4 separate regions of the Homo sapiens genome follow, and all the other regions are reported to be linked to region 1. The links are microRNA targets in miRTarBase. Many come from high-throughput screens and were not tested one by one. Region 1 holds a microRNA gene; each other region holds the end of a gene's coding sequence.

Region 1 (5,768 bases):
CCGGGAAAGCAGCACCAGGCTGTCCCCCCTGTGCATCCTGCTGCCCTCCTCTGGGCCCTAGAGCATCCAGGCACCAGCCTGGCAGGGCACAGGCTTCCCAGCAGGGGGACATGACCACTGACCACTCAAGGACAGGCTTGGGTCTTGGTCCCCTCTGACCTGGCATTGTCCAACACAGGGCTGGCCACGGAGGCCATTCCACATTCCATCCAGGCCCTTACAGGGGTGGGTGAGCCACTAGGCGAGAGACGGGCCAGGCTGGAGTGTCGGTTCTGGTGCGGGACGGCTGGGCAAGGCCCAAGGTCACAAAGGGGTTCAGAGCTGGGTAAGGCCACGTCTCTTCCAGAGCTGACACTTGTCACTTTTGTTTTTAAAACCCAACAGGTCAAGAAGTGGCGCTGACCTGGAGCCCCTGCCTGGGGCTGGCCTTCCTCACAGTGAGCTGGGCCTCCTGCCATCCTGGCTCTGGAGGTAGGAGGAGCCGTGGGAGGTCTGATAGGGAGGGAGGGCTATCTCAGAGCCAGGCCACTCCCGGTCCTCTCCAGGCCCCACCCTCAGGCACAGAGGTCCTTAGGTGGGGACTTGATGGTCTCACAGCCAAACCTTCGCCCAGGCTGTGGCCTCCCCTGAAGCCATGTCTCTTCTTGTCTTCCCGCCACTCTTCCAGCAAGCTCCCCCCGTTGGCCCACCTCATCTGCCCACTGTGCACTTGGGGCATGGTGATCTTTGACCCTGGTGGTGCACCCCTCAGGCTGGACAGGGCCTGAAGGAGCCGTGGTTCATTGCAGGGCGTCTGAGTGGAAGAGGCTCAGCCTCACCTCCACACCCTGAAGACTCACTCTCTGGCCCTGGGCTCTGTTGTGTGCACCGCCTGTCTGCAGGGCCCAGCCTGCCTCGAGCACTCCCTGGGGACAGAAGCTCCTGCGCTGGCCTCTCCTGTCACCTAGCCACCGGGCATCCTGGAGTGCAGCCCTCATGCCCCGAGGCCACCTGCCATCGCCCAGGATGACTCAAGATGCCACCTGGGTAAGTCTAGCCCAGAACGAGAAAGGCCGAATGAGGGAAACTGAGTCACATCTGCTTCTCCCAGGTGGGGCTGGGGGCCCAGGGGGAGGGCACTTGTGGTGACGACCAGGGTGGACTAGGGGCCTGTCTCCCATTCTGTCTCTGCCACACGTTATAGAGCCCGACCTGTGGGCTGGGTCCCCCCATGGTGAGCACTGTAGGCTCTAGGAGGCTGAAGTCCTGGCCTGGGGGACCTGTGGGGGCCAGGCTGGGGCCATTGGAATCAGTATGGTGGTCCCCACCTGCACTCCAGCTCCGATGGCTGATGACGGGGGCCCTGGCAGCTGACCCCTTGCCTCAGTGGGGAGACCACGGCTCACGAGGGCATGAGACCTGCCCAGAGCATAGCCCAGAGGCCGGCCTGGATTCTCACAGCTCCGCCCACTGGGCTGTCCTGCCCCACCCCCTTTTTAGCCTGCTGGGACCATGAGTCAGAACCCAGTAGGTGTGAGGGGACCCAGCCAGCCCAGGTGGCCAGTCCAGCCTGAGGGGGTGGGGGTCTCAGAGATTAAGTCAGGAGCCCAGAGTGCGTGCTTAGGGTGCAACCCACCCCACAGCCTCCCCCAAGGCACCTCCCGGGGGTGCAGATGGGGGCAGACGCAGGGACACTCAGGGTGGACCACCTGACTGGGAGCTGATCATGAGGTGTGCGACAGCCTGAGTCAGCCTCAGCTCAGAGGAGCTGGGATGGCCTTGATCTTCCCCCTCCGGCCACTCACCACAGCTGGGAGGGTCCAAGGAGACCCTCAGCCACTGTCCCTTCAGCCCTCACCCCACCCTGGCTGGCTCTGCCCGGACAGTCCTTAGGGACATCTTGGTCCTGCCCACCAGCCAGGGGACCCAGAATTGGAGCAGGGGAGCAGGACCCCCAGACCCTCTCATACCGCTTTTGTTCTGAGGCCTTGAGGGAACACGGGGTCTTCGCGACCCCAGGCGAGATGATGCTGGGACAGAGGAGGGTCGGGCTGCATCGGGGCCCTCCTGGTCCCCACTCCTGGGTGAGTCAGCATCTCAGTCTCCAGTTCTGGGTGGGCGGCACCAGGTGTGAGCCTCAGCGGTCTCCTTGCTGGCTAAGGACCTGGGATTTGCTCCAGTGCCCCTCGGGAGGGAGTAGGACACGTGCCCAGAGAGCAAGCAGACCCCCTCCCCGACCAACTTCTGAGAGCAAAGACACCTAGAGCTAGAGATTCAGCACCCCCTGAGCCTCAGTTTCTCCACTATGAAGTGGGATCCGTGATCTCAGCCTTACCAGGGCTGTGAGGATTAAATGGTCCAGCCCAGCCTGGGGCCTGCCTGGAGTAGGCAGCCTGCTCAGGATGGGCTGTGGAAGGAGGGCTGGGGTAGACCTTTCAAGTCCACTTGGGCATGGGGAGCTGAGAGCTAGCATGCCGTTTAACTTGGCAGGAAGCAGGCCGGGCGCAGTGGCTCATGCCTGTAATCCCAGCACTTTGGGAGGCTGAGGCGGGCGGATCACGAGGTCAGGAGATCAACACCATCCTGGCTAACACGGTGAAACCCCCTGTCTACTAAAAATACAAAAAATCAGCCGGGCGTAGTGGCGGGCGCCTGTAGTCCCAGCTACTCGGGAGGCTGAGGCAGGAGAATGGCGTGAACCCAGGAGGCGGAGCTTGCAGTGAGCCGAGATCGCGCCACTGCACTCCAGCCTGGGGGACAGAGTGAGACTCCATCTCAAAAAAAAAAAAAAAAAAAAAAAAAAAAGCTTGGCAGGGAGCAGGACATTTGGACCTCACTCTGCTGCCCCCTTGGCTGTGTGACATCCAGGTCACGTTGCCTCTCTGGGCCTCGGTCTCCTCACCTGTTTAAGAGGGGTTGACAGTCGTATCTGCCCCCTCAGCTTTTCCCCAGGAAGGTGGTAGCCACAATTAGCATTTGTTGAGGCTGACCCTGCACCAGGCCCAGGATAGGCGGGGCTTAGGGAGGCCCGTCTCTCGCCACGTTCCCCTGCTAGGGGAGCCCCGAGGCCCTCTCAGTGTCATCCTCATGCTACACTCTGTCCCAGCCCTGTGCGTCCCAAGCTAGGGCACTGAGTGTGCCAGCACCCGCAGGGACAGGCACTGGACCCTGGGTGGACCTGAGGGTCTGTGACTACCCCCCCAGCTGCTCTCCCCTAGAGGCCACTTCCCTCAAGGAAGGAAAGAACCTTCCCGCCACCTCCTGCAGTGCGGTCAGCTCAGGCCAGCCTGCACAGCAGGGCCAGAACCAGGGCCCCTGGGGAGGGATGCCTGCCTGCCCAGTGGGAGGAGACGGCACGCCCGTGAAGCCGCTACTCAGCCAGCCTGGGGGCCACGAGTGCTGCTTCTGGTGGCGCTGTGCGGGGAGGGAGGGGGCCGAGCAGGGTGGGCACTCGCATGCCTGTGTCTTGCTGGCCTTCGACAGATGACAGCCCTCCTCCTAGGGTCTCCAGTGCAGAGTTCCTTGGGGACATTATGGCCACTCCTGTCCAGATGAGAGGGAGCCGGCTGCCTGTGACAGCGTCGCAAAATGCCGCCAGGGCTTTCCCTCCCTCCTCCTTTCTCTCTTCCTCGTCCCTCTCTGGTTGGTGGTTTCCTGCAGGCTCCCGTCCCTGCTGGTGCTGGCCACAATGTCCCCACTCCCAGGGTTTCGGCGTCCCAGCCCCCTGCGCCCACCGCGCCTGCCCGCCAGAATCCCTGTGCCCTTGGTGCGTGTGGCCTGCCGAGCCTCGAGCCCCTGTTCTCCTCAGCCCTCTTTCCTCCCGCGTCCCCAGGAGGTGCCTCTGGAAGCCACGGAGTCCCATCGGCACCAAGACCGACTGCCCTTTGGGGTGAGGTAGTAGGTTGTATAGTTTGGGGCTCTGCCCTGCTATGGGATAACTATACAATCTACTGTCTTTCCTGAAGTGGCTGTAATATCTGCGGTGGACAGAGCGTCTGGAACCCTGGCTGGGAGCGGGCAGGGCCAGGTTTGGGGGCAGCCTTGGCAGCAGTCGGGGGCAGGGGCCGCCTACACTGAGAAGTCTGACAGGCCTAGGTGCCACTTGCTGTGTGACCTTGGACAGGCCCCTGATCTCTCTGGGTCTCAGTTTCCTCCTCTGTAAAATGGAGGCAAATGAGGATGGAAGGAGATGCAGTGTGGAGCATCGAGGGCAGAGGAGAGCTGAGCCGACCCCACCCTCTGCCCCAGCCGCACTGAGAGAGGCGATCCACGCAGCTGTTTGTCTGACCTCTGTCTCCCAACACTCCCCAACACTCCCCCCGCCATCAGGCCCAGGCTCATGGGTGGCCCTGAGCCGTACCCTCCACTGAGCACCAGGAGAAGGCACCGTGGGGCCAGGGGTGGCCGAGACGTTTGGAGGTCACAGGGCTGCGAGTATTGGCGTTGCCCATCACCCCAGGTTCCCAGCACGTGCCCCAGCCTGGCCAGCTCAGTGGCAGGGCCTCTGCCTGTGGAGGAAGGGAGGCCAAGGCACCTTTCCTGAGCAGGAAGTGAGAGGAACAGCTCTGCATACACTGGGTCCCACATGGCACAATCTGAAGGCAGACAGTGGCTCCTCTGTACCTGGGGAAACTGAGGCCCAGAGAGCCAGGGACTTCCCAAGACCAGCCAGCAGCAGCTGCCCCTTCCTGGGGTGCCATCTCCCCTGTCCCTCCTGCCCTGCGCCTGCCCAGCCCTCCTGCTCTGGTGACTGAGGACCGCCAGGCAGGGGCTGGTGCTGGGCGGGGGGCGGCGGGCCCTCCCGCAGTGCAAGGCCGGGCCTGGCGGGGTGAGGTAGTAGGTTGTGTGGTTTCAGGGCAGTGATGTTGCCCCTCGGAAGATAACTATACAACCTACTGCCTTCCCTGAGGAGCCCAGTGACACGACCCCATGGGAGGGCCGCCCCCTACCTCAGTGACACGACCCCACGGGAGGGCTGCCCCCCACCTCAGTGACCTGCAGGGGGCCTGAGCCGAAGCTGGGTGGGCATCTGGGAGCTAGATTCAATAAAGCTGTTCTGACCATGAACTTGGAACTGGCCCCTTTCATTCTGGAAGCCCAGGGACTGGGCTCTGGGGCGCGTCTGCTGCGGGACAGTGTGGAGGCCCCTGGCCACGAGCTGTTCCAGGTCATGAGACTTGTCTGCTCACGCCTCCCGGTGCCTCCAGAGTCCTCAGTTGGCTCCGTGCTGTACCCTGGGCTCAGGATCCCAGGCCCAGCCCGTTCTCTGCCCTCTCGTGCTGCCTTTGAGCCAGGCGGGCTGAACACCGGGACCCAGGCCCGGTGGAGAGGTCCCCACGGGGCAGCCACCAAGGCCCCAGGTCAGCAGCTCAGAGCACTGCCAAGTCCTGGCTCCTGAGGCCACCTCCGTGCCTTAAGTGCCTTGACCAAAGTCTGGACGTGCCTGTCCTTCCGTCCTCCCTCAGGACAGTTTCCAGGGCACCCGTAATTCCTCTGACAGACTGCCATCCCAAAAGTGCACCCATTCTCCTGGGAGGCCTCAGGCCCTCGTCTAGCAGCTGCCGTAGGCTGGGCCCAGTGATCCCGCCCTGGGCATGTGGGGTGGGCTTGTTCATGCCTGGCCCAGCACCGAGAGCCCCTGGTGGGGAGGGGCTGATACAGCTGGGCCCACACCTCCCCCACCCAAGTGCCCATCCTCGCCCCTCCTGTTGACCCAGGCCACAATCTTGGCCCAGATTCCCCCCTGTGCCCTCCTGGCCTGCCTTGGTTCTGCAGGCAACCCCAGCCCT
Region 2 (3,000 bases), not on the chromosome of region 1:
CTCCTTCAGCCTGGACCTCGGTTTCCTCACCTGTATAGTAGAGATATGGGAGCACCCAGCGCAGGATCACTGTGAACATAAATCAGTTAATGGAGGAAGCAGGTAGAGTGGTGCTGGGTGCATACCAAGCACTCCGTCAGTGTTTCCTGTTATTCGATGATTAGGAGGCAGCTTAAACTAGAGGGAGTTGAGCTGAATCAGGATGTTTGTCCCAGGTAGCTGGGAATCTGCCTAGCCCAGTGCCCAGTTTATTTAGGTGCTCTCTCAGTGTTCCCTGATTGTTTTTTCCTTTGTCATCTTATCTACAGGATGTGACTGGGAAGCTCTGGTTTCAGTGTCATGTGTCTATTCTTTATTTCCAGGCAAAGGAAACCAACAATAAGAAGAAAGAATTTGAGGAAACTGCGGAGAAAGTGCGCCGTGCCATCGAGCAGCTGGCTGCCATGGATTGAGGCCTCTGGCCGGAGCTGCCTGGTCCCAGAGTGGCTGCACCACTTCCAGGGTTTATTCCCTGGTGCCACCAGCCTTCCTGTGGGCCCCTTAGCAATGTCTTAGGAAAGGAGATCAACATTTTCAAATTAGATGTTTCAACTGTGCTCTTGTTTTGTCTTGAAAGTGGCACCAGAGGTGCTTCTGCCTGTGCAGCGGGTGCTGCTGGTAACAGTGGCTGCTTCTCTCTCTCTCTCTCTTTTTTGGGGGCTCATTTTTGCTGTTTTGATTCCCGGGCTTACCAGGTGAGAAGTGAGGGAGGAAGAAGGCAGTGTCCCTTTTGCTAGAGCTGACAGCTTTGTTCGCGTGGGCAGAGCCTTCCACAGTGAATGTGTCTGGACCTCATGTTGTTGAGGCTGTCACAGTCCTGAGTGTGGACTTGGCAGGTGCCTGTTGAATCTGAGCTGCAGGTTCCTTATCTGTCACACCTGTGCCTCCTCAGAGGACAGTTTTTTTGTTGTTGTGTTTTTTTGTTTTTTTTTTTTTGGTAGATGCATGACTTGTGTGTGATGAGAGAATGGAGACAGAGTCCCTGGCTCCTCTACTGTTTAACAACATGGCTTTCTTATTTTGTTTGAATTGTTAATTCACAGAATAGCACAAACTACAATTAAAACTAAGCACAAAGCCATTCTAAGTCATTGGGGAAACGGGGTGAACTTCAGGTGGATGAGGAGACAGAATAGAGTGATAGGAAGCGTCTGGCAGATACTCCTTTTGCCACTGCTGTGTGATTAGACAGGCCCAGTGAGCCGCGGGGCACATGCTGGCCGCTCCTCCCTCAGAAAAAGGCAGTGGCCTAAATCCTTTTTAAATGACTTGGCTCGATGCTGTGGGGGACTGGCTGGGCTGCTGCAGGCCGTGTGTCTGTCAGCCCAACCTTCACATCTGTCACGTTCTCCACACGGGGGAGAGACGCAGTCCGCCCAGGTCCCCGCTTTCTTTGGAGGCAGCAGCTCCCGCAGGGCTGAAGTCTGGCGTAAGATGATGGATTTGATTCGCCCTCCTCCCTGTCATAGAGCTGCAGGGTGGATTGTTACAGCTTCGCTGGAAACCTCTGGAGGTCATCTCGGCTGTTCCTGAGAAATAAAAAGCCTGTCATTTCAAACACTGCTGTGGACCCTACTGGGTTTTTAAAATATTGTCAGTTTTTCATCGTCGTCCCTAGCCTGCCAACAGCCATCTGCCCAGACAGCCGCAGTGAGGATGAGCGTCCTGGCAGAGACGCAGTTGTCTCTGGGCGCTTGCCAGAGCCACGAACCCCAGACCTGTTTGTATCATCCGGGCTCCTTCCGGGCAGAAACAACTGAAAATGCACTTCAGACCCACTTATTTCTGCCACATCTGAGTCGGCCTGAGATAGACTTTTCCCTCTAAACTGGGAGAATATCACAGTGGTTTTTGTTAGCAGAAAATGCACTCCAGCCTCTGTACTCATCTAAGCTGCTTATTTTTGATATTTGTGTCAGTCTGTAAATGGATACTTCACTTTAATAACTGTTGCTTAGTAATTGGCTTTGTAGAGAAGCTGGAAAAAAATGGTTTTGTCTTCAACTCCTTTGCATGCCAGGCGGTGATGTGGATCTCGGCTTCTGTGAGCCTGTGCTGTGGGCAGGGCTGAGCTGGAGCCGCCCCTCTCAGCCCGCCTGCCACGGCCTTTCCTTAAAGGCCATCCTTAAAACCAGACCCTCATGGCTACCAGCACCTGAAAGCTTCCTCGACATCTGTTAATAAAGCCGTAGGCCCTTGTCTAAGTGCAACCGCCTAGACTTTCTTTCAGATACATGTCCACATGTCCATTTTTCAGGTTCTCTAAGTTGGAGTGGAGTCTGGGAAGGGTTGTGAATGAGGCTTCTGGGCTATGGGTGAGGTTCCAATGGCAGGTTAGAGCCCCTCGGGCCAACTGCCATCCTGGAAAGTAGAGACAGCAGTGCCCGCTGCCCAGAAGAGACCAGCAAGCCAAACTGGAGCCCCCATTGCAGGCTGTCGCCATGTGGAAAGAGTAACTCACAATTGCCAATAAAGTCTCATGTGGTTTTATCTACTTTTTTTTTCTTTTTCTTTTTTTTTGAGACAAGGCCTTGCCCTCCCAGGCTGGAGTGCAGTGGAATGACCACAGCTCACCGCAACCTCAAATTCTTGCGTTCAAGTGAACCTCCCACTTTAGCCTCCCAAGTAGCTGGGACTACAGGCGCACGCCATCACACCCGGCTAATTGAAAAATTTTTTTTTTTGTTTAGATGGAATCTCACTTTGTTGCCCAGGCTGGTCTCAAACTCCTGGGCTCAAGTGATCATCCTGCTTCAGCGTCCGACTTGTTGGTATTATAGGCGTGAGCCACTGGGCCTGACCTAGCTACCATTTTTTAATGCAGAAATGAAGACTTGTAGAAATGAAATAACTTGTCCAGGATAGTCGAATAAGTAACTTTTAGAGCTGGGATTTGAACCCAGGCAATCTGGCTCCAGAGCTGGGCCCTCACTGCTGAAGGACACTGTCAGCTTGGGAGGG
Region 3 (6,056 bases), not on the chromosome of region 1:
GAACACGACCTGGGAGGGTTTCTACCCCTGCACTGTTCAGCAGGAGACAGTATCTTGCCAACAGCATCCATACTCCATGTGTTTACAGAAGCCTTACACATTCATGATTTGTGTTCTGAATACTCCTTTTTCCTTCTACCAACAATGACTTCCTTTAGAGAAGCCTAGGGGGATTGTGACACTGCCTTTTTTTTTTTTGAGATGGAGTTTTACTCTGTTGCCCAGGCTGGAGTGCAGTGCGGCACGGCAATCTCAGTTCACTGCAGCCCCACCTCCCGGGTTCAAGTGATTCTTCTGCCTCAGCCTCCCAAGTTGCTGGGATTACAGATGTGTGCCACCACGCCTGGCTAATTTTTGTATTTTTAGTAAAGGTGGGATTTCACCACATTGGCCAGGCTGATCTCGAACTCCTGACCTCAAGTGATCCACCCGCCTCGGCCCCCCAAAGTGCTGGGATTACAGGTGCGAGCCACAGCACCGGCCATGACACTGCAATTTTGATCTCACACATTCTCTACGTAAGTGGCTGAATATTTTGAGTATTTCTTTCTCTCCTTGTATTTTCATGACTTCCCCCCAACCTGCTCAACACCTCCCTTCTAAGGCAACTGTCACAGGGATTCCCTATCCCAGAATAGGTTTGCATCAAAAAGCAGAACTGCCTATAAAACTTGGGTATCAACAAAAAATTTGCAAAAAGACACAAGGTAAGGGCTCCCCACTGCAACCCAGCTTCACTGTCCTCATCCCCATAACCACACACACACAGAAAAGGCAATAGCCAGCAGGGCACGATGGCTCATGCCTGTAATCCCAGCACTTCGGGAGGCTGAGGTGGGTGGATCACGAGGTCAGGCATTCGAGACCAGCCTGACCAACATAGTGAAACCTTGTCTCTACTAAAAATACAAAAAAATTAGCCAGGCGTGGTGGCGGGCGACTATAATCCCATCTACTCGGGAGGCTGAGGCAGGAGAATCCCTTGAACCTGGGAGGCGGAGGTTGCAGTGAGCCGAGATCACGCCACTGCACTCCACCCTGGGTGACAGTGTGAGACTCCCTCTCAAAAAAAAAAAAAAAAAAAGGCAATAGCCCCTGGCTGGGGATACAGTCAGGAGAGCTCTGTGGAAGGGGAGGGACCAGAACTTGGGGGAGGCATCCTGGCAACGTCCCAGAGAGGAGACAGAACACCGGGGACCAGGCTGCAGAAGAATCCTGGGTGAGCAAAAGGATACACTAGAGAGCCCACCATCACGCGTGAAGGAGCTCGTGGATGGATGAGGACACTGGTCACTGCTACAGTTATCTTTGCAGAAGGAAGCACCCCGCCCCCAAACCTTAAGAACTGAAAGGGAGAGGAAAACTGAGGATGTTTTCTGCCAGCCTGGTGGGAGGGAGATGAGCCTGAAAATAAATGAAAACTAGTGGGGAAAGGCATGATTGTTCCTCTATAGTTGACTTTGAGCACTCATTTCCTCTGCACACACAGGCTCAGCTATTGGTGAGGAAAGCAGCCCAAACTGCTAAATCTCATTTACACCAGAGTACAAACTGCTGGAATAACTTCATGGAGCAGGTGTTAAAGCTGGCTTCAGTCATCCCCCAAGTCGGATGCACTGGCTACAGAGAGACATCTTGTGTCTTAAAGATGTACATATTGCTGCTGTAATGCCTGAATATATTTAAAATAAAGAGGAATGTGCTCCAAATCACTGCTCAACATCAGAATGTTTGGAGGCTACCAAACGAATGTGACTCAAACATGAACATGGATGAGTCATCAGAGGATCCTGTTAAGATGGAAGTTCTGGTTTAGTGCCTCTGGGTGGGGCCCAAGTTTCTGCATTTTTCTTTTCTGAGACAGGGTCTCTGTTTCCCAGGCGGGAGTGCAACAGTATGATCACAGTTCACTGCAAGCCTCAAATTCCTGAGCTCACCTCCCACCTCAGCCTCCTGAGTAGCTGGGACTAAAGGTGTGAACCACCACGACTAGCTAAGTATTTTATTTTTCGTAGAGATGGGGGTCTCACTATGTTGCCCAGGCTGGTCTCGAACTTCTAGCCTCAAGTGCTCCTCCTGCCTCCCAGTTTTCTGCACTTCCAACAAGCTCCCAGTGACACCGACGCTGCTGGTGTCAGGACCTCCACTGTGAGGAGCAAGTAGCTACACCACAGGGCTCCCCATGCGCCAGGGAGAGGCTCTTCTAGTGACAGGAGACAATCTTTTCACTGAGGGCAGGGATGGATGGGGTAACATTGATGGGTAAGGTTTGTAAGGGACTCGAGAGGCTCAGATCTGGGGACTCTGACAGGAAGAGAAAGGCAGCCCAAGACTGTATTTACCTTGTTTGGTGATTCTGTGAAAGACTCAGGCAGCAGGCCCCCGGTGATAAAATGTGGAGTGATTCAAGAGCTCAGTCAGGCCAGTCAGAGCTCTGCACTTCACCCCAATATTTTCACAGGAACCCCCCCAGCCTGCTCCCATCGGGATAGGCAGGAGACTGGAAAAGAAACAGTGCCCAGTAGGGGCAACGTTAGGTCAAGATGCCATGCAACTGTAATGCACCTTTTGTTGTTGTTAAAACTTCAAGCGCTACAACAGCGTTCTCCTGATGATCACGAGTTATTTCAATAAATGGCATTCCCAGGAATCTTCTCCCACGGCCGCTCTCCCGCCAACAATTCATACTCATCCTCCCATCCAAAAAGGCATAGAACCGCCCAGACACTTTTCGTTATTTTTATTGTTTGACAAGCATTTACAACGTTCCATTCATAGACCTAAAAACATAAAAATAGACCTTCTTTCAGCTTATAAAAGAAATATATAAGAACTTTTGACATAGACACGTCATGACCTTATGTACAAGAGACAATGGCACCCTCTCCAAGCACCAGACTTCCGAGTGTTTTCAGATGGATGTGTTGCACTGGAGCCAGTAAATGCGACGATTAGAAGCCTCTGCTTCCGTTTTCCATCTGGACGCGATCGAACCGGAGATGATATGGAAAAATGCAGTGATACAAAGGGTATAGAAACCATTCTAAAGCTTTTTCAGAAAACCAGAAGATATAGCAAAAATTTAATAGAATAAAACTTTCAAAAGATCAAGCTCGAAGCCCTGGAAACCCGAAAGGCGGGGGGAATACAGGGTGGGAACGCAGGAAAAGCAGGCAGAGGCACAAGAGCATGATGTACTGAACTCTCTATTGTCTGGAAATATAAAGTCATAACTGATTTTTATAAAATATAACTCCTAAAGCTACTATAAAATTCAGGTCTTTAAAGTACCTACTGATGTGTCAAACACCAAATAGATATTTTCCCCAAAAAGAAAGTTTTCATAGTATTTTAAACCCTTCTTAGGAAGTGGACATTGTGACATGGGAAAAGAAAAAGCTATAAACCTTTTTTTAAAAAAAAAAAAAAAATTGAAAGTGCTATAACTTGTTTTTCTTCTTAGTATTTGGATATCTGTTTAGACTGTTAATGTTTTGAGCATGTTTACCCTGTTTCGTTGGCATGAAGAAAGTGTTAAACACAAGAGAAGTTTTTAAAGAGGTTGTTCTGTTTAAAGGTTTGGTTATGGACTGTCAGGGAAGGGGAAGGTAATCTATGGATGAAGATGCAATTTTGATGGAAAAACCAATGATCACCATGGCAACCCCATGAGAAGGAGGCTCCCCTCCCTGCCATGTGCAACAGACACACACACCGCCCACCGGGGTGTCATGTTTAATCCAACCAAACTCCCATCTCAAATATAGATTCAAACATTAAAAAAAAAAAATCCGCTTTTTGGAAGAAAAGTATATCCTTCGCATGAGCTTGCTGGCCTTTCATATATAAATATAAAACCACCACGCCTCACTCTCTCTGTAAAAGGTTATATCCTCATTTTTTAGGCTCAGGGATACATACACTAACACTGTAAAATTCTCATCTATTTGTGCCCCTGTATCTCAGGTAAAATACAAAAAATAGTGTTTCTTTTCTTTCTCTCAAGCGATAAATTTGGATCTCTTTTCAAAGAGTTTGGCATCTCTATAATTCTATGCAAAACTAGAGCTTCCGAACATGGACACAGAGTAAGACCAGCCATAGACCAAAACAGGAAGGAAAAAAAAAAAGAGGCTCATTGAAACATGAATCGCCACCCTCTCCTCACACATTCTTAAAATACACGGAGATTCTCAGACATGGAAGAGGGAAGGGTACAGTCAGAACACGGCAAGCTGTACACATTTCATTTTGTGTGTGAAAGAGGTTTCCCCAGCTAGGAGACTGATTTCAGATAGAAGGATCGTGTGTGTGCTACTATCCCTTAAATTAATCTGTTGTACATCCGTTAACTCCTGGGGTGATTTGCTTTCCAGTGCTATAGAATCTTTTTTCTTTTAATTGTTCAGGCCCTGATTTATTGAGAATAAATAAAAGCCCTTAGTAATATACAGAAGATAGGACTCAAGCTTATTTGGGATTCTGATCAATTCTTTCTGATGTTGTTGAAAATGACAAAGTTGGGTGGCTACATGGCTTCAGAACCAAGTCAGCTGCCAAAACCGTGTGTGCAAGAGCGCGACCTAAGGGGACATTCTTGTCGACGGTACAGGAGGGTGGGCAGAGTTAGGGCAGGAAGTATCTACACACATTCTCTACGGGGCAGGTGACGCAGTCAGATCTCAGTGTTCAGTTTCCTGGAGGGGGCAAAGTCTTCACGCCTAACCCAAATGACTTCCTCGCTTGCGCTCTCCAGGCCTCCATTGATCCCCGACAGGGCAGCTTGCTTCTTGAGCTGTGCCATGCGGGACGCGTGACTATCCAGGGTTTTCCGGCCTCTTTCCCGCTGACTGATGGAGGTGGCCTGAAGCCGCTCCTGCAGGTCTCTGTCCACTGAGGCACCCTTCACGGACTCACAGAACTCATCATCGTCACTGAGGATGTCTGTCTCCTTGATGTCATCTTGCTCCTCATACTGAGCAAGATCAAACTGCTCCTCTACCCATCGGTCAGTGTCCCCACCACCGGGGGGCTGCTGGGACTCTTTCTCCGGGCTGCTTGCGGAGACGGCATCAGAATCAATGGTAAACCTGTTTCGAGCCAGCCGCCGCCTCCTCCTCCCAAGAGACTTGCTTGGGGCAGACACTGCACACACACACAAAAATATAAAAATAAAACCCCCACATGCTTTACGTGAGATGAAAATCCAGAAAGCAAAGGACAGGAGAAAATAAAAACCAAAACGGTATGCATTGAATGCCTTGATGTCTTTTGGGGCTTAAAGTCTACATATCACCAATCTGTCATGGAGCATTTACCTTGTCGAGGTATCTGGACTTAGAGGATGTTCTAGCAACTGATGCAAGGGCAAGGGGGAACCGGGGCACACAGGAGAGGTTGTAGGTTATGGGCAAAGGGGCACTCAACTCCCTCTGAAATAATCTACTGTTCTAGCCTGTGCACCTAAGAGATGGGTAACACAGACAGCAGCTGCTCTCAAGTAGACAGACCACTGATTTGGGGATCAGTTAGTGAGTTAGTGTCCTCAATCCTGGCCATGTCCCATGGCCCAGTGCTATGAAGATCCCCAGGGCTGTCCCAGGGTTGTTTAGCTGGAATAGGTCTTTAGTAAGGGTGGGGGTGCATCTATGGTTTTGCTGTCTTTGTAGAATGTGCATCAAGGAGGCAGAAGCACCAGTGTAAGTTACTTGTTTTCTGGGAACTGGAACATAACATTTCTTGGGATCTGCAGTTAGATTAAGGGCACCACGTCACTCTTAGAGAGCCTATGAAAAAGAGTGGCTCTCAAAGACATGGGATCTTCAGTTATTTCCCTGTCTTCTTTCTGACAAAGTCCCACATGAGCTAGGAAGCTAAGCAAATGTGTGCCTTAGTCTCCCCCAATTACAGTCTGTGTATCACTCATTCTTCTCCAAAGCAATTAACATATCAGTGCCTCATTGGAATGAGAAATAAAAAACCGATGACATCCAAGCAGTTTGATCAACAAAGTGCTGTATAAAGTGACTACCAGTTAAGAAAAATTCATTCTTTCA
Region 4 (6,056 bases), not on the chromosome of region 1:
CTCTCCAGAAAACATGAGAAGCTCCTGGTGACGAACCAATTCCTTCTTCATGGATGTGAAATGACCAGGATGCTATCAAGTCACCATGCTCTTTCGTCATGCCCAAAGTTGTGTGTGTTGGCTGTTCCACTGTCCTATCAGCCTACAGAAGGACAAGCAAAGCTTACAGAAGAATGTTCCTTAGGAGGAAGCAGCAACCGTGATCAGGATGAATGAGAAATCATCCCAATAAACACGCTTTGTGTACATTTTCCTTAAAAAAAAAAAAAAAAAAAAAGACAGTAACTACCACAGACTGGCAGGGAAGGAGTGGGAAAATTAATACTCTGACATTTTTTTTTCTGCTCTGATTTTCTACCACTGGCCAAACACAATCAGAAGCCAGAGGATAAAGCAAGCCCAGATGAAGTGGACCGTAGAGATCAGTCCCTAAGGACACACTGCAGGAGAATGTCAGAGAGTGGTTCTGGAGAGGCAAATTGGATCTGGGCTTTCCAAAACAGACCATGTTTGCTAAAGCCATAATTGGTTTCCGCAGCTTGCCACAAAGAAACCGAACTGATACAACCCACGTTACAGACAAGAAAATGAAGTTCAAAGAGATTAGGTTACTTTTTGCAGGTCACATGGCTAATATATGTAGAACTCTAAAACAATTTAAGTAGAAGAAATTTAAAAGATCACAGAATCAAATGTTATTTTCCCTGGAGTTAGTAACTGCCCTTTTTATTGCTTAATTTGCTTTGTATGTTTTTTTCTCTTATTGTAAAATACAACATAAAACTCACCATTTTAACCATTTTAAAATGAGCAATTGAGTAGCATTTAGTATATTTGTAGAGTTGTGCAATGACCACCACTATCTAACAGAATCCTATAGAGCCACAGCAGAGGCGACACCTGACAGGAGATGTAGTCGCAGAAAAGGGAATAAGCTTGCCCTTCCGTCTGCACAGGGAAATGGCATTCTATTTATCTATATACACACACACATATACCAATTACTGAATCAGGATACACAGCTAAAAACAGATCCTGTTATATGTAAGAATGCAGTGTACTATAAAAGAGGTATCAGTGTGAAAAGGACAACCCAATTGTCTAATTGGAGTTGAGGAATTATTTTTATTTTTAAAAGGGAAATTAACGTAGACAAATCGTAACATGTACCCCAAATCCAAATGGATTAAAGACAAAAATGTCAATAAAACATTTGTGGACCTTTCCAATAGAAAAAAAAAAAGAGCAAACTCTAACTGCCTACAACATTTTAAATCTAGAATCCTATATTCAATCAATATGGGGATAAAGTTCTTCCCCTTGGATAGGAGAGGTTTCGTTTGGTTTTCTTTTAATTTCCTCCAAAACAATCATTGGCAGGAAGCTTCTGCAGGATAAGCTCCAGGTGTAGAAAAAAAAAAAAAAAAAAAAGTTTGTTGGAGACCATAGGAATTTCATAAAAATATTGAAACTGAAAACACTTAAAAAGCATTCCAAATCAGCTTTCCAATCTGCAACCTTTGTTAGAATGAAGGCAACAAGAAAATGGTCTGAAAGTGCCAGGGAAGAGAAGAGGAAGGACACAGAGCCCTCTTGGTCCCTTCAGCATTTTCAGGAGACAGAATGCCACAGAGAATTTTCCACAGAGCTGGGCATGGTGGCACACTCCTGTAATCCCAACAACTCAAGAGGCTGAGGCAGGAGGATCGCTTGAGGCCACAAGTTCAAGACGAGCATGAGCAATGTAGTATGACCCAATCTTTACAAAAAAAAATAATAATCAGCTGGGCACAGTGGCATGCACCTGTAGTCCCAGCTACTGGGGAGCATGAGGTGGAAGGATAGATTGAGCCCAGGAGTTGGAGGCTGCAGTGAGCCACTATTGCACCACTGCACTCCAGTGTGGGCAAAACTGAGACACCAAAAAAAAAGAAGTGTTCTGTGGTTGCAGAGCAAGAGAGAGAGGAGGCTTAACAGATTCCCACCCTGAAAGAGAAAGTAGGAAGCAGAGTACATAATAGCACTCAATTTCCTTTGAGAAAACTGCCTTCCCTCCATTGTGAGAAGTCTTCACCTGGAGGGCCTGCCTCCTCACTGCTGCAGCCAGGAGCCAGGTCTTCACCCACTTCCCAGGGAGTCACAAGAGCCTGGCTGCTAGGCTCAGCGAATGGATGCTCTCTCCAAGTACAGCAAGATCCTAAGCAAGTTAGGCTTTAGTGCCGTGGCAGAAGCAAGCATGCTGAACACAATTCCCCGCATCCACAATGGAGGCTGGGCATTGCCAGCAGTAGCGGTTGGAACACAGGATTTAGGAGGAGGCAGCAGTTATGAAATGCTCAAGATAACCAGTAATGAGCAGCACAAGACCCCTTGCACCTTCAAATATAAGACCAGTAATAACACTTACAAATGTACATTTTAACTTGGATAGTTAAAAATACTAACAAGTGATTTATATCTGCTAAATCAGCAAAAAAGAACAAAGAGGAACAAATTGAAGGCATATGTTTTAATGAACATTATAACCAAAAAAAATTGAGTCCTTGTGCTAGAAACATGTAGAAGAAAAATTATAAATTTGTTTCAAAGAAAGCTTTCAGAATCAGTTTTACCTAAAATCTATAGCTAAGATTATCACTCCCACATACCCTCACCCATGATTTCTTCCTGCCAACCTTCTCTCAATAGCTATATCAGTATTTGGCTTGATTCATGTTCAATATTGACAACAGCATGTCTAGTTAAATACTGCTCGCAGCTGGCCATGGGACATATTATGAATACCTTTGCTTCCCAGATACATTTATAATTGTTTAGTTTTTCATTTGCTTACTTCTCTGGGCCATAATTCAACCCCAAATTATTTGCCATTTGTCCAGATCTCTCCACATCCTGATGGATCAGGTTGTCTACAAATGTCATCTTGTTCAAAGGCCTCTGCTCCATTCTAACCTGGCAGGAGTAGAGGGGTGCCATGCAGAAGGGGAGCAGAGAATGCCAGGAAGGCAGGAGAACAGGGGCCTCTGGGCTGAACCAGCCCAAAGGCTCCTGTGCAGCTTCCCAGTGAGAAAAGGTGAGACTGTCAGCAAAGAGAAAGTGAACTTTGCCCAGCTCTCTATGACCACATGCTGCCACACACACTGAGGATTGAGAACAGATCCAAGGGCAACCGCAGACGCCTAAAGCTAAAGAAGGTGGTCTAAGGTTGTATAAAAAAATCCAGATGCACTTTTTTTTTTTTTTTTTTTTGTAGACAGGATCTCACTGTTGCCCAGGCAGTGGCACAATCTAGGCTCACTGCAACCTCTGCCTCCTGGGTTCACACAATTCTCCTGCCTCAGCCTCCCTAATAGCTGGGATTACAGGTGCCTGCCACCACACTGGGCTAATTTTTGTATTTTTTGGTAAAGACGGGGTTTCACGATATCGGCCAGGCTGGTCTCAAACTCCTAGCCTCTACTGATCCACCCGCCTCGGCCTCTCAAAGTGCTGGGATTATAGGCGTAAGCCACCTTGCCCAGCCTCCAGACGCATTTTCTATACAACTCTGCACGGGCAATTTTGGCCTCAGAGTCCTCCAGCAGGTGGCAGACTCCAGCACAGGAACAAAATCTGTCTACCCCAGAAATCTCTTCCAAGTTGACACAGCCTTCATAAGCAAGAGCCATAACTGTGATGAATGCCTGTTGTCATTTTAAGCACTGCAAGTTATTCCACATGAATACTGAACTGTGGTCCAAGCATACAGGGGAATGCATCCCCCTTTCAATCACACGACATCCAACACATGCCATAGGTGGGTAATGTCAAGCAATATTCACCCCCCGCCCCTGAATCCTTCACTTGGTCAGGAGACACCCTGTATCTACTGCAAAGACTTCTGTTTTCTCCTCGGTTCTGTATTTTCCCAAATTCCTACCCTGGTACGTACTATTTTTTTCTAATTACAAAATAATCATTAACTTTTAAAAAGCCATGTACAACTAGTTGACATAATAAAAATCCACCTAACTCATCTTTTAGTAACTATGGCTATGTTGTAACAATTTTATTTTGATTTTTAAAAAAGGAATCTCTTGATTTAATCAGGGCTTTGGGGTCATAGGGGGATTAGTCACTGTCACAGTCATAATAATGCATTTATTCAGGGAAAACTTTAATTTTCTTTGTCTTCTCCAAAAACAGCTGCTGGAACACCTCAAATTAAGGGATGTTCATCTAAAACACCTTTACTGAAACTTGATTCCTTGGGCCAGAGGAAGGTCTTTACTGTAGTTGATAGTACTAGTGGGAAAAAATAACAGAATTAATGACAGTACATACATAACAGAAGATTTTCATGCCCACTTTTAAAATGTAGCAGATCTGTATATATTAACAAGGCAAGATCTCCAAGTTACAACTTTTTAAGACAAACCTTTAAGATAAAAGACAATGTTAGTATGGATCCCGTTTTATTTAAAAGAAAAAAGACAGAAACATAAAAATCTGGAAAGACATACCATACATGGTTTTTTTTGTTGGTGGTGGTTTTTGTTTGTTTGTTTGTTTTGTTTTGAGACAGGGTCTCACTCTGTCACCCAGACTGGAGTGCAATGGCACAATCTCAGCTCACTGCAACCTCCGCCTCCCAGGCTCAAGCGATTCTCCTGCCTCAGCCTCCTGATTAGCTGTGCACCACCACGCCTGGCTAATTTTTGTATTTTTAGTAGAGACGGGGTTTCACCATGTTGGCCAGGCTGGTCTTGAACTCCTGACCTCAAATGATCCACCTGCCTCAGCCTCCTGAACTGCTTGGATTACAGGCATGAGCCACTGCAGGCGTGGATCACCTGAGGTCAGGAGTTCAAGACCAGCCTGGCCAACATGGTGAAACCCGGTCTCTACTAAAAATGCAAAAATTAGCCTGGCATGGTGGTGCAGGCCTGTGATGACAGCTACTTGGGAGGCTGAGGCAGGAGAATCGCTGGAATCTGGGAGGCGGAGGCTGAGGCTGCAGTGAGCTGAGATCAGGCCACTGCACTCCAGCCTGGGTGACAGAGCAAGACTCCATCTCAAAAAAAAAAAAAAGTGTGCCCTCAAAAGTGCAAGAAACAGCCCAGCATGGTGGCTCATGCCTGTAATCCCAGGACTTTGAGAGGCCGAGGCAGGCAGATCACCTGAGGTCAGGAGTTCAACAACAGCCTGGCCAACACGGTGAAACCCAATCTCTACTAAAAATACAAAAATTAGCCGGGTGCTGTGGCTCACGCCTGTAATCTCAGCACTTTGGGAGGCCAAGGCGGGTGGATCACCTGAGGTCGGGAGTTCGAGACCAGCCTGACCAACATGGAGAAACCCCAACTCTACTAAAAATACAGAAACCACGCACGAGACCATTTCATTGTTGGGTGCTGGGCACTAGCTGAAGCTAGACAAGAAGGCTAGAAAAATAGCACCAAATAGATACTTAGAGGAGACAGCTGTGGAATGCTGGAAAAATCAAATCAAATGACACTGCACAAAGACAGCACAGACAGTAGGAAAGTGTAAAAGCCCATTCCCAAGGGTTTTAAGCCCAAACCTATCTTCCCAAAGCCTTTTCTTACCAAGTAGACCTTCTCATGTACTGTTTCCAGGCATCACTGCCAGACTCCCTGCCACCACCAGTGTGCTTTTCTCCTCCTAGAGAAATAAAAAATAATATCATATCTTCTGAGCAGTTTCCATGTGGGCTCATAGTTGGTATCAATGAAAAGAAGATACCAAAAGGACACCAGAACAACCTGATTATTTACTTTACATTTAGCCCACAATATCTCCCCTGCAAACAAATCAAAGACAGAGACCAAGAGACCAAAACAAACAGAAAAAAGGAATTAAGAGGGAAAATAAAATATAAGGAATTAAGAAGAAATGGAAACAGAAAGAAACGGTAAAAAAAAAAAAAAATCCCATTAGCTGGGCGTGGTGGTGCATGCCTGTAACCCCACCGTGCCCAGCCCACACATGTTATTCATAGTTTTTCTTTTGAGCAGGGCACAAGAATATGGGAGCTGTAACTGTCTTCTTTATCT

Evidence for each region. The annotated mature microRNA hsa-let-7b-5p reads UGAGGUAGUAGGUUGUGUGGUU and lies in region 1 at 4,809-4,830, shown strand. An mRNA with a match to its seed (bases 2 to 7 or 8) in the 3' UTR can be bound and repressed. Matches are read on the target gene's strand: a 7mer-m8 pairs with bases 2 to 8, a 7mer-A1 pairs with bases 2 to 7 and ends in A, and an 8mer does both.
Region 2: the mRNA of BIRC5 is a reported target of hsa-let-7b-5p. The part of its 3' UTR that is shown has no 7-base or 8-base seed match.
Region 3: the mRNA of TIAM1 is a reported target of hsa-let-7b-5p. The part of its 3' UTR that is shown has no 7-base or 8-base seed match.
Region 4: the mRNA of ALDH7A1 is a reported target of hsa-let-7b-5p. The part of its 3' UTR that is shown has no 7-base or 8-base seed match.

Annotation. Positions count from the first base shown.
Region 1 is chr22:46,108,883-46,114,650 of GRCh38, forward strand. MIRLET7B (microRNA let-7b) reads left to right here and starts at 4,804; the gene lies at 4,804-4,886. It overlaps LOC124905135 (collagen alpha-1(III) chain-like), which reads left to right. Exons shown (of 2, transcript XM_047441696.1): 2 at 1-5,046. It overlaps MIRLET7BHG (MIRLET7B host gene), which reads left to right. Exons shown (of 5, transcript NR_110479.1): 4 at 385-471; 5 at 882-5,046. MIRLET7A3 (microRNA let-7a-3) reads left to right here and starts at 3,867; the gene lies at 3,867-3,940. It also overlaps MIR4763. RefSeq lists an enhancer at 1,895-2,428.
Region 2 is chr17:78,223,103-78,226,102 of GRCh38, forward strand. BIRC5 (baculoviral IAP repeat containing 5) reads left to right here. Exons shown (of 4, transcript NM_001168.3): 4 at 363-2,533. The coding sequence ends at 452. Among named protein-coding and RNA genes, the nearest start is that of TMEM235, 7.0 kb to the right of the region's middle.
Region 3 is chr21:31,115,693-31,121,748 of GRCh38, forward strand. TIAM1 (TIAM Rac1 associated GEF 1) reads right to left here. Exons shown (of 28, transcript NM_001353694.2): 28 at 2,726-5,145. The coding sequence ends at 4,676. Among named protein-coding and RNA genes, the nearest start is that of KRTAP19-8, 80 kb to the left of the region's middle.
Region 4 is chr5:126,540,736-126,546,791 of GRCh38, forward strand. ALDH7A1 (aldehyde dehydrogenase 7 family member A1) reads right to left here. Exons shown (of 18, transcript NM_001182.5): 17 at 5,589-5,664; 18 at 1,106-4,284. The coding sequence ends at 4,230. Among named protein-coding and RNA genes, the nearest start is that of ALDH7A1, 51 kb to the right of the region's middle. RefSeq lists enhancers at 3,002-3,296, 3,663-3,712.